Homo sapiens: one gene and its partner. The protein of the gene in region 1 purifies or fractionates together with the protein of each later gene. This does not show direct contact. Each region holds a gene or a part of one and is shown in the gene's direction. Other genes may lie near its edges.

The links.
Region 2: the proteins of HSD11B1 (region 1) and ACSL4 purify together in Homo sapiens (affinity purification with mass spectrometry; one large-scale study listed by BioGRID and IntAct). This does not show direct contact.

What each region holds. Positions count from the first base shown.
Region 1 is NC_000001.11:209,703,329-209,707,798, forward strand, and holds the start of HSD11B1 (11-beta-hydroxysteroid dehydrogenase 1), read left to right. Parts: upstream 1-1,517; 5' UTR 1,518-1,614; coding exon 1,615-1,702; intron 1,703-2,482; coding exon 2,483-2,613; intron 2,614-3,380; coding exon 3,381-3,492; intron 3,493-3,614; coding exon 3,615-3,800; intron 3,801-4,470. UniProt on the Homo sapiens protein: Controls the reversible conversion of biologically active glucocorticoids such as cortisone to cortisol, and 11-dehydrocorticosterone to corticosterone in the presence of NADP(H).
Region 2 is NC_000023.11:109,673,987-109,677,806, reverse strand, and holds part of ACSL4 (long-chain-fatty-acid--CoA ligase 4), read left to right. Parts: intron 1-3,333; coding exon 3,334-3,405; intron 3,406-3,820. UniProt on the Homo sapiens protein: Catalyzes the conversion of long-chain fatty acids to their active form acyl-CoA for both synthesis of cellular lipids, and degradation via beta-oxidation. Preferentially activates arachidonate and eicosapentaenoate as substrates.

The sequences.
Region 1 (4,470 bases):
CTGCCTTCCCTCTAGGGATGAAAATGGAGTGTAGTCTGTAATATATCCTGGTATCATAAATATATTTATAAAATTATACAAATGTAGCTTGCAGTTCTAAAGGCATGTAATCTAATTTTTACTTGAATTTTATCTTTTTTCTCTTTTTGTCCTTCATAGACCTCGAGCTCTGTCTAGCCCTCAACTGTTCTCAAATCTCCATTGTTTTCTACAAGTGACCCTCACAGCTGTGGGCCTTTGTTGACAAATTGTTTCATCTCCTCTGGGTCTTAAATTATTTTCTCTTACTCTAAAGTGAAAATTTGATGAATGTTTCCAGATACTGCACTTGGAATCATAACTTAATTTCCCTTAACCTTGTGTAAATTCTGTCCCCCCACTACTCCCAACTCCTATCCCTCCTCCAAAGCACTGATACTTATTATCACATTTAAATTTTTTCCCCGCTCTACTGATAACTTACAGAATGCAGGACTGCATTGTGATGGGGTAATTTCCATGAGTTGATTGGTTGGTTTTGAGTTGAAAAACTTAACAATGATACATCTTAAATTCTTTCTTTGAGGATTATTCCTTAATGAATTCGTGCTACGGACATACTGAGGTGGTTATTTTTATATTTCCCTGATAATAAATTCTAAATTGCTAAGGGTTTCTTACCACCCTCGTCCTTTTACTGTTACTAGATCTATTTTTAGCTGGTGTGGGCGTCCCCAGCTAGTTTCACTTGCCTAATGCTAGTTCTTTTTTCTTCTACATCAGGTCGCCTCTTCCTAGCATCTTCTCCATGTTTCTTGTTGCTCTACAGCATTTACAAGACCCAGTTTAATAGTTTAGTGCCTTTTTTGTCACTCATTATTTCTTCTTTGTTCTCTGTTAAAATAATAAGTGTATGATCCATTGCACTTGCCTTAGAGTCTTGAACCAGTCTTGGATTTCCCGCCATCTGGGTTCTGGCTGGCTTGCAATTTCTCCTTTGATGTTGTAATACTTTTTCATTGAACTTGAGTGTGGGGCTTATAGAGCTTCTTTGCTTTCATTATTTTTTCCCAAAATGTGCACATTTTTTTTCTTAAGCTTATTTTGCTGTTTTGTGCTGTTATTTTTAATTGCTTCCCACTGGGTGGGGGGGTAGGGGGACTGAGAGTGAGATTTGGCTTGAGTTTGGCTCTCTTTGCTATTACTCACATTTCCCCCCAGAAGCCCTACATGCACTCCTCTCTCTCTGTCTTTGACAAATTACTTTTGAAAGATCATTGATCCCTGGCGTAAATGGTGTTAAGAGTAAGATGGACTCGGGTAGGGATGCTCAGGAATCCAGTCCTGTACAGTCATGAGCTTGGCCATCTGGAAGTCTCCTCTTGCTCAATGAAATGGAGTAAACATTGTCCATTATGAAATCCACCACACAGGCTGCCAGGGACGAATGGGATCCCACCCAAAGCCAATCGCTGCTCTGACAGGGAAATTGGCTAGCACTGCCTGAGACTACTCCAGCCTCCCCCGTCCCTGATGTCACAATTCAGAGGCTGCTGCCTGCTTAGGAGGTTGTAGAAAGCTCTGTAGGTTCTCTCTGTGTGTCCTACAGGAGTCTTCAGGCCAGCTCCCTGTCGGATGGCTTTTATGAAAAAATATCTCCTCCCCATTCTGGGGCTCTTCATGGCCTACTACTACTATTCTGCAAACGAGGAATTCAGACCAGGTAAGTACCCATGCGTCTCATTTTGGAGGAATAGGTTTAAAAAACACAGGGGTGCTTGAGTGTTCCTGAGGACCAAGATGTGTTCTTGATCCTCAAAGTTGGTGAAAATGAGGGAACCCTGAGTTAAGATGGTATTTTTGTGTCCTCCAGCTACAGGCTGTGGACAGGGGGGACTGTGTAGGAAGGGTAATCGTGTAGCCAAAATCTAGCCAAATAGGCCATGCTTTATTTGGCACCCTTAATGGAAAGCAGTTTCAAATCTTCTACAAAAATGAGAGTAATACCCAAATTCACAACTCAGCAGCTAATTGGGCTCTATGAAGAGACTGATAAGTGGGAGGCAAAAAAAAAAAAAAAAAAAACTGGAGATGATGACTACATAGAAGTGAGGGAAAATCCCTGGAATTTCTATGAACACATGTGTTTTGATTCCTTGTTAAATGTACTTTCAATTGAGCAAAATTGAAAGAGTCCAGAAATGTCTGGAACTCCAGCATTTTAGCTGAACCATGACTTTTCTGGCTTCATCCTATGATCTCTTTCCATGGAGGTTTTTAGAAATGACAGTAGGGAGGCTGTCAGCCCAAACCTCCCACTTCAGAGCATGTTTATGAAAGACCTGGCCTGTTCCCACAGTGATTTACGGAGTTTGTGACAAACTGATCTGGGCTCATAACCTTTAAGTTACAAATTGCGATAAGCATGCCTATATCCAGAGAGGGAGAAGGAATTTTGCTGCCAACTTGGGTATGGTCCTCACTTCCTTTTGGGGTTCCCCAGAGATGCTCCAAGGAAAGAAAGTGATTGTCACAGGGGCCAGCAAAGGGATCGGAAGAGAGATGGCTTATCATCTGGCGAAGATGGGAGCCCATGTGGTGGTGACAGCGAGGTCAAAAGAAACTCTACAGAAGGTGAGGGTTCTATGCTCGCAGATATGTGTACCGTCACATGCTCAGATGTGTTCTTATATATGCTCACATATACACAGAAGCTAGCATATCGCAGATCTATATACAGAGGCACATGCACACACACAGACACTTAATTTTGCACTCTCATATATAGATTCAAACACCAAAAAACCCACAGGAATATAAAAGTATGCATTTAAGCATTCATTCATGTGTGTGTGTGTAATATATTCTGCAACAGAGTCCTTGAGTTATATATGCTCACAGACATGCCTAGTCACACACATTTACACATGGAACTACAGATACATACGGATGTTTTCAAAAACTGAAATCCCAGTACCTGCTTATGAATACATATCCTCATACCCATGCAGACTCCCAGACACATGCCCTCTCATGGACTCACAAACCCAAGGATGTACAAACATTCACAAACCTAGAGCTACCCACATAGTAACCAGCATCTACACTCATAATGCCCTCAGAAATGCCTATTCACAGAAGCCATGAGCATAAATCATGAACTTAAACCCCAGCACTGGGATGATTTATCCATTTGAACCCCACCAAGTTCCAGAAAATATTTCAGACAGAGGACGATGATCATGAGGGTTATATTAGGCAACACACACACAAACATACTTACCATTTCTTACCTAAACAGGGCTGTGAGCAATCTCTCATTTAAGCCCCCCGTTACTTCAGAGACTACCCCCCAAAAATCTGCAGCTAAGACTGATGCCATTTCTGCTGTATCACTGCAGGTGGTATCCCACTGCCTGGAGCTTGGAGCAGCCTCAGCACACTACATTGCTGGCACCATGGAAGACATGACCTTCGCAGAGCAATTTGTTGCCCAAGCAGGAAAGCTCATGGGTGAGGCTGTTTCTCTTACCTCCTCCTCTGAACTTTGCCCTTGGGGTCACCAAGAGCTTTTGGGAGGAGAATGGGAAAGGTATCAACCCCAGATGATTTCTTAATATAGCCATCTCTTGCAGGAGGACTAGACATGCTCATTCTCAACCACATCACCAACACTTCTTTGAATCTTTTTCATGATGATATTCACCATGTGCGCAAAAGCATGGAAGTCAACTTCCTCAGTTACGTGGTCCTGACTGTAGCTGCCTTGCCCATGCTGAAGCAGAGCAATGGAAGCATTGTTGTCGTCTCCTCTCTGGCTGGTAAGTGGGACAGGGACATATGTGGAAGGTAGAAGAAAAAAAAAAATGCCAGGGATGATGCCAGGCTCTGAAGTAGACATAAATTTTTATCAGTTTCCATGCAGAGAAGTAATGAGGGATTGGTCAAGGTAAGTGGGCTACAAAATTCTTTTAAGTAACAGAGAAAAAGCAGTAGCTCTGAGTGCTCATTGGAAGACTGAATTGTTTTCTACAAAGTAAGGTCAAAGGGACTTGAGGGGCTGCTGGAGGTACAGCCTGTCCTGGTCCTAAGGGAGAGACCTAGTTACAATATTAACTTGAAGTTGAAATGTTCATAGTAATATTAAACAAAAGCTGATTAACAGCTTACTCATATGCATGAATGGGCAGATGTACTGATAAGAGACTTGTAGGGGGGTGATTTGTGGACTCAATGAGAGGCACGCATCCTGAGTAAAGGAGACACTGTTACAAACTAGTGACACCATAAAAAATGAAGGATTGGTCAAGGTAGATGGGCTACAAAATTCTTTTAAGTAGCAGAGAAAAAGCAGTAGTTCAGAGTGCCTATTGGAAGCCTGAATTGTTTTCTACAAAGGAAGGTTGAAGGGACTTGAGAGGCTGCTGGAGGTACAGCTTGTCCTGGTCCTAAGTGAGAGACCTAGTCACAATGGATAAAAAGGACTTTGCT
Region 2 (3,820 bases), on another chromosome or scaffold:
GCTATATATTTTAAAATTATTTTTTTTTTCTTTTCTTTTGCTCTGTCACCCAGACTGGAGTGCAATGGTATGATCTTGGCTCACTGCAACCTTTGCCTCTCGGGTTCAAGCGATTCTCCTGCCTCAGCCTCTAGAGTAGCTGGGATTGCAGGCGCCCGCCACCATGCCCTGCTATTTTTTTTGTATTTTTAGTAGAGATGGGGTTTCGCCATGTTGGCCAGGCTAGTCTCGAACTCCTGACCTCCAGTGATCTGTCCGCCTCGGCCTCCCAAAGTGCTGGGATTACAGATGTGAGCCACTGTGCCCAGCCTTAAAATTATTTAAAAATGAATAATTACTTTTATCTTTTTCTACTAGATTTTTACTCTTGAGAACTACGATAGAGAATATAAATGCAATGAGCCTTTTTGACACACTACCCATGAGCATTGGTGGGTTTCTGGGAGGAGATATGTTAGGGTCTTGGCCCAGTTTTCCCGAGATTTTTCTAGAGCAGTACCGTCTGATACAGTAGCCACTAGGCAGATATTTAAATAAAAATTAAGGGCCGGGCGCGGTGGCTCATGCCTGTAATCCCAGCACTTTGGGAGGCCGAGGCGGGTGGATCACAAGGTCAGGAGATTGAGACCATCCTGGCTAACATGGTGAAACCCCGTCTCTACTAAAAAAATACAAAAGAATTAGCTGGGCGAGGTGGTGGGCGCCTGTAGTCCCAGCTACTCGGGAGGCTGAGGCAGGAGAATGGCGTGAACCTGGGAGGTGGAGCTTGCAGTGAGCCAAGATCGCGCCACTGCACTCCAGCCTGGGCGACAGAGCGAGACTCCGTCTCAAAAAAAAAAAAATTAAGTAAAATTGAAAAAAATTTTTTTATTTGCTTTAGCCACATTTCAAGCTCTCAATAGCTACGTGTGACCAACGGCTACCATATTAGGCAGCAAAGATAAAGAATATTTTTATCATCACAGAAAGTTCTATTGGTAGGGGCTGAGGCATCTCCAAAGGTAGTCTCAGCTCACCATACTAAGTTAGGATTCTTCCTTCTCTCTGTAGTTCATAGCAGAAATCCCAACAATGGGTGGGGCTAACTCATATATGTTATACCCATTTGAAATTACACACCTAATACTATTGTCCACAGTTCTGTTTTATGTCTTCTTTGGAATAGTTGCTGTAGAAAAGCTTCAACCAGGCTTAGGGGAAAAAAAAAAAGAGCCACTAAAGAAGCTGTGGGGTTCTGGATGCTGAAAGACAAAGCAAGTATAGGTAGGAATGACTTGTCTATACGTGGCTCTGCTCCTCCAACACTGGGGGCCCAGCTGTTGTTTTTCAGACCGCCCCCCACCAGGCAATGCTGCCTTTTGTTTGAGAGTCTCCATGGAGCATGTAGTTGGTAAGATACGTCCTCAGTGTTCACAGTTAGAAATTGTAATACTTTATTTGTAGAAATACCATTTTAGGGAGAGGCTAGATAGGTTGTATACTATTAAAACAAAAAAAGTTAAATAGTTTTTTTTGGACTTGAGATTCCAATCACCTTTGTGTTTTTTTTTTTTTTGATATATGACTTAAAGTGCACAAATATTAAGTGTACTGCTTGATGAGATTTAATAAGCATATACACATATAGACCTCTGTGATCATCACCGTCTAGATTAGGAAAACAAAGAACATTTTCAGCACCCGTGAATGTCCCTTGGGTCCCCTCCTGGTCATTACCACATTGGATTCTCTTTGAAGGAAGAATCCAGCCTTCTTTTAAAGTGGCTTTTTCTGTGAGAACGCATTCTGTTCCAAACAACTCCTAGCTTTGTACTTTAAGAAACACAATCTTTGTATGACAGGGTGCTGCTGTGTTTGACTATACCACTCAGCTATAAATTCACACTTAAAATCTGCTAGAATAGTAATGGTATGAATAAATACACTATCCGATTGATAGCAGAACTTGACCTGGTGAAATCAAAGTAGACCTATCAATAAGACTAAGGCTTAAACTCTAAAACAAATTTAGTAAAATCTCTGATCATTATGTTTTGTTGTCATGGGTTTTTCTTATGCTCAGAGACATTATCAAAATGTAGAAAACATTTCAGTAAACTTTGAGTATAATTTTTTTTTCCCTTTGTGAATTTGGAAGCCAGGACTAGCCGTTCTTTGATTTTTCACTGCCTTTCTGAGAACAATAGCCTCAGTGTGGGAAAGGAGGGACAGTTGGAGTCTGTTGCTGGTCTGACTTAATTCTTGCTGTCTCTTAGGCTAAGCTAGTACATTAGAAGCCTGTTCAGTAAAATTCACACCTACTTTTTAAATGAACTTTACTGTAAAGACTCTCAATCTTACTAGGAATCTAAAACACTGGAACTTGCTTCACATAGGAAATCAGAAGGATGCAGGAGACTAGAAGCACCACATTTGGAGCCAACTGATGATAGCAATATTGTCATAACCAGGATTACTATGATCACAAGAAGACAAAATAACTGATAAAATTACTAAGAGTAAAAAAAACAAAGAAGGGCTTCTTGTGGCTTCTGCTATCCTGGAACTGCTCTCTGTAGCAAGAGCTGGTCAGTAGCATGCAGAGGGCAACTCCGACCTGAAGGACATGAGAGCCCATTTTGTTTCTGCAGAGCAGCCCTCCTGTGTGTGGTGTACATGGTTTCTGTGTAGGTTTCCACTTGCAAATGTGCACATCCTTGCACATATGTAAAATGAGTTATTTTATCTCCTTTATCCATATTAAAGAAAAGTAGGAGAAAGGCAACTTAGTTCTATCGGGAGAACCATCCTCTATATGGCCATTTGTGCACATTTATGTGTATCTCTACTTTGTCCCTGGCAGTGTTCTCAGTATCTTACCAACTAGAATATTACCAAATTAGAGTTTCAGTATGATGTTAATTGATGTTCATAGTGGTGTCTTCAGGATGTGGCTTTGCCTATTGTTAATCAAAGAAAGTTAAAATCACCTTCAATTTTGTTTTAGTGTTATATCTGTCTTAATCAAGTTTTTTTGAAAATGTAGTAATAGTCTGTGCTATATTTGATAGTATGTTATTAATAAGAATGTTTGATTCATCACAATGTCATTCTCTTGTTATCCTGGATCAAGGTTTCTCCTCTAAGGAAGGTGAAATGTGCTAGAAGCAGTTATCTGTAGCACTAAAATACTTACATTTGAGACTTGTAGGTTATGATAGTTGTTAACAGATAATCACAGAGCAATAAAAGCTCAAATTCCAAGTGTAACTTCTGTATTTGTTATTAATACTTGAATTACAACATGTTTTAAGGTTGGTTTTCCTGATCATATTTATTTTTTCTTTAATATAGTCCAGCAAAATTAAAAAAGGAAGCAAAGGAGACTGTACTGTACTGAAGCCCACACTTATGGCTGCTGTTCCGGTGAGTACAGAATATGAATATGAACATAAGAGGATTGTTTATATAATTTATTGATCGTACTTGGACCTTTTAAAAAGTAATACTCTTAGATATGTCTACATTTTAAAATAATTTTACCTTGTTGAAATCACAGCAAATGTGTTCATTAAAATCTTAGGTACCATACTAGGGAAGACAAAATGGCAAGATTTTGAAATGCACGCCTGTTTGAGTTTGCTGATACATGAAAATTAGGTGATGAAAATGACCTAGTTCAGGTTACCTACTGTGAGAATTGGTCAGACCGTTTTAAGGTAGAATATATTCTAAAGATCATCTTGTTTAATCTCTTAATTAAAAAAATGAGGAAACTTTAGGCCATCCTAGGGAGCTGAAGAATCGTATACAAGGTCAAGGATCTAAGCCCTCCCAACTC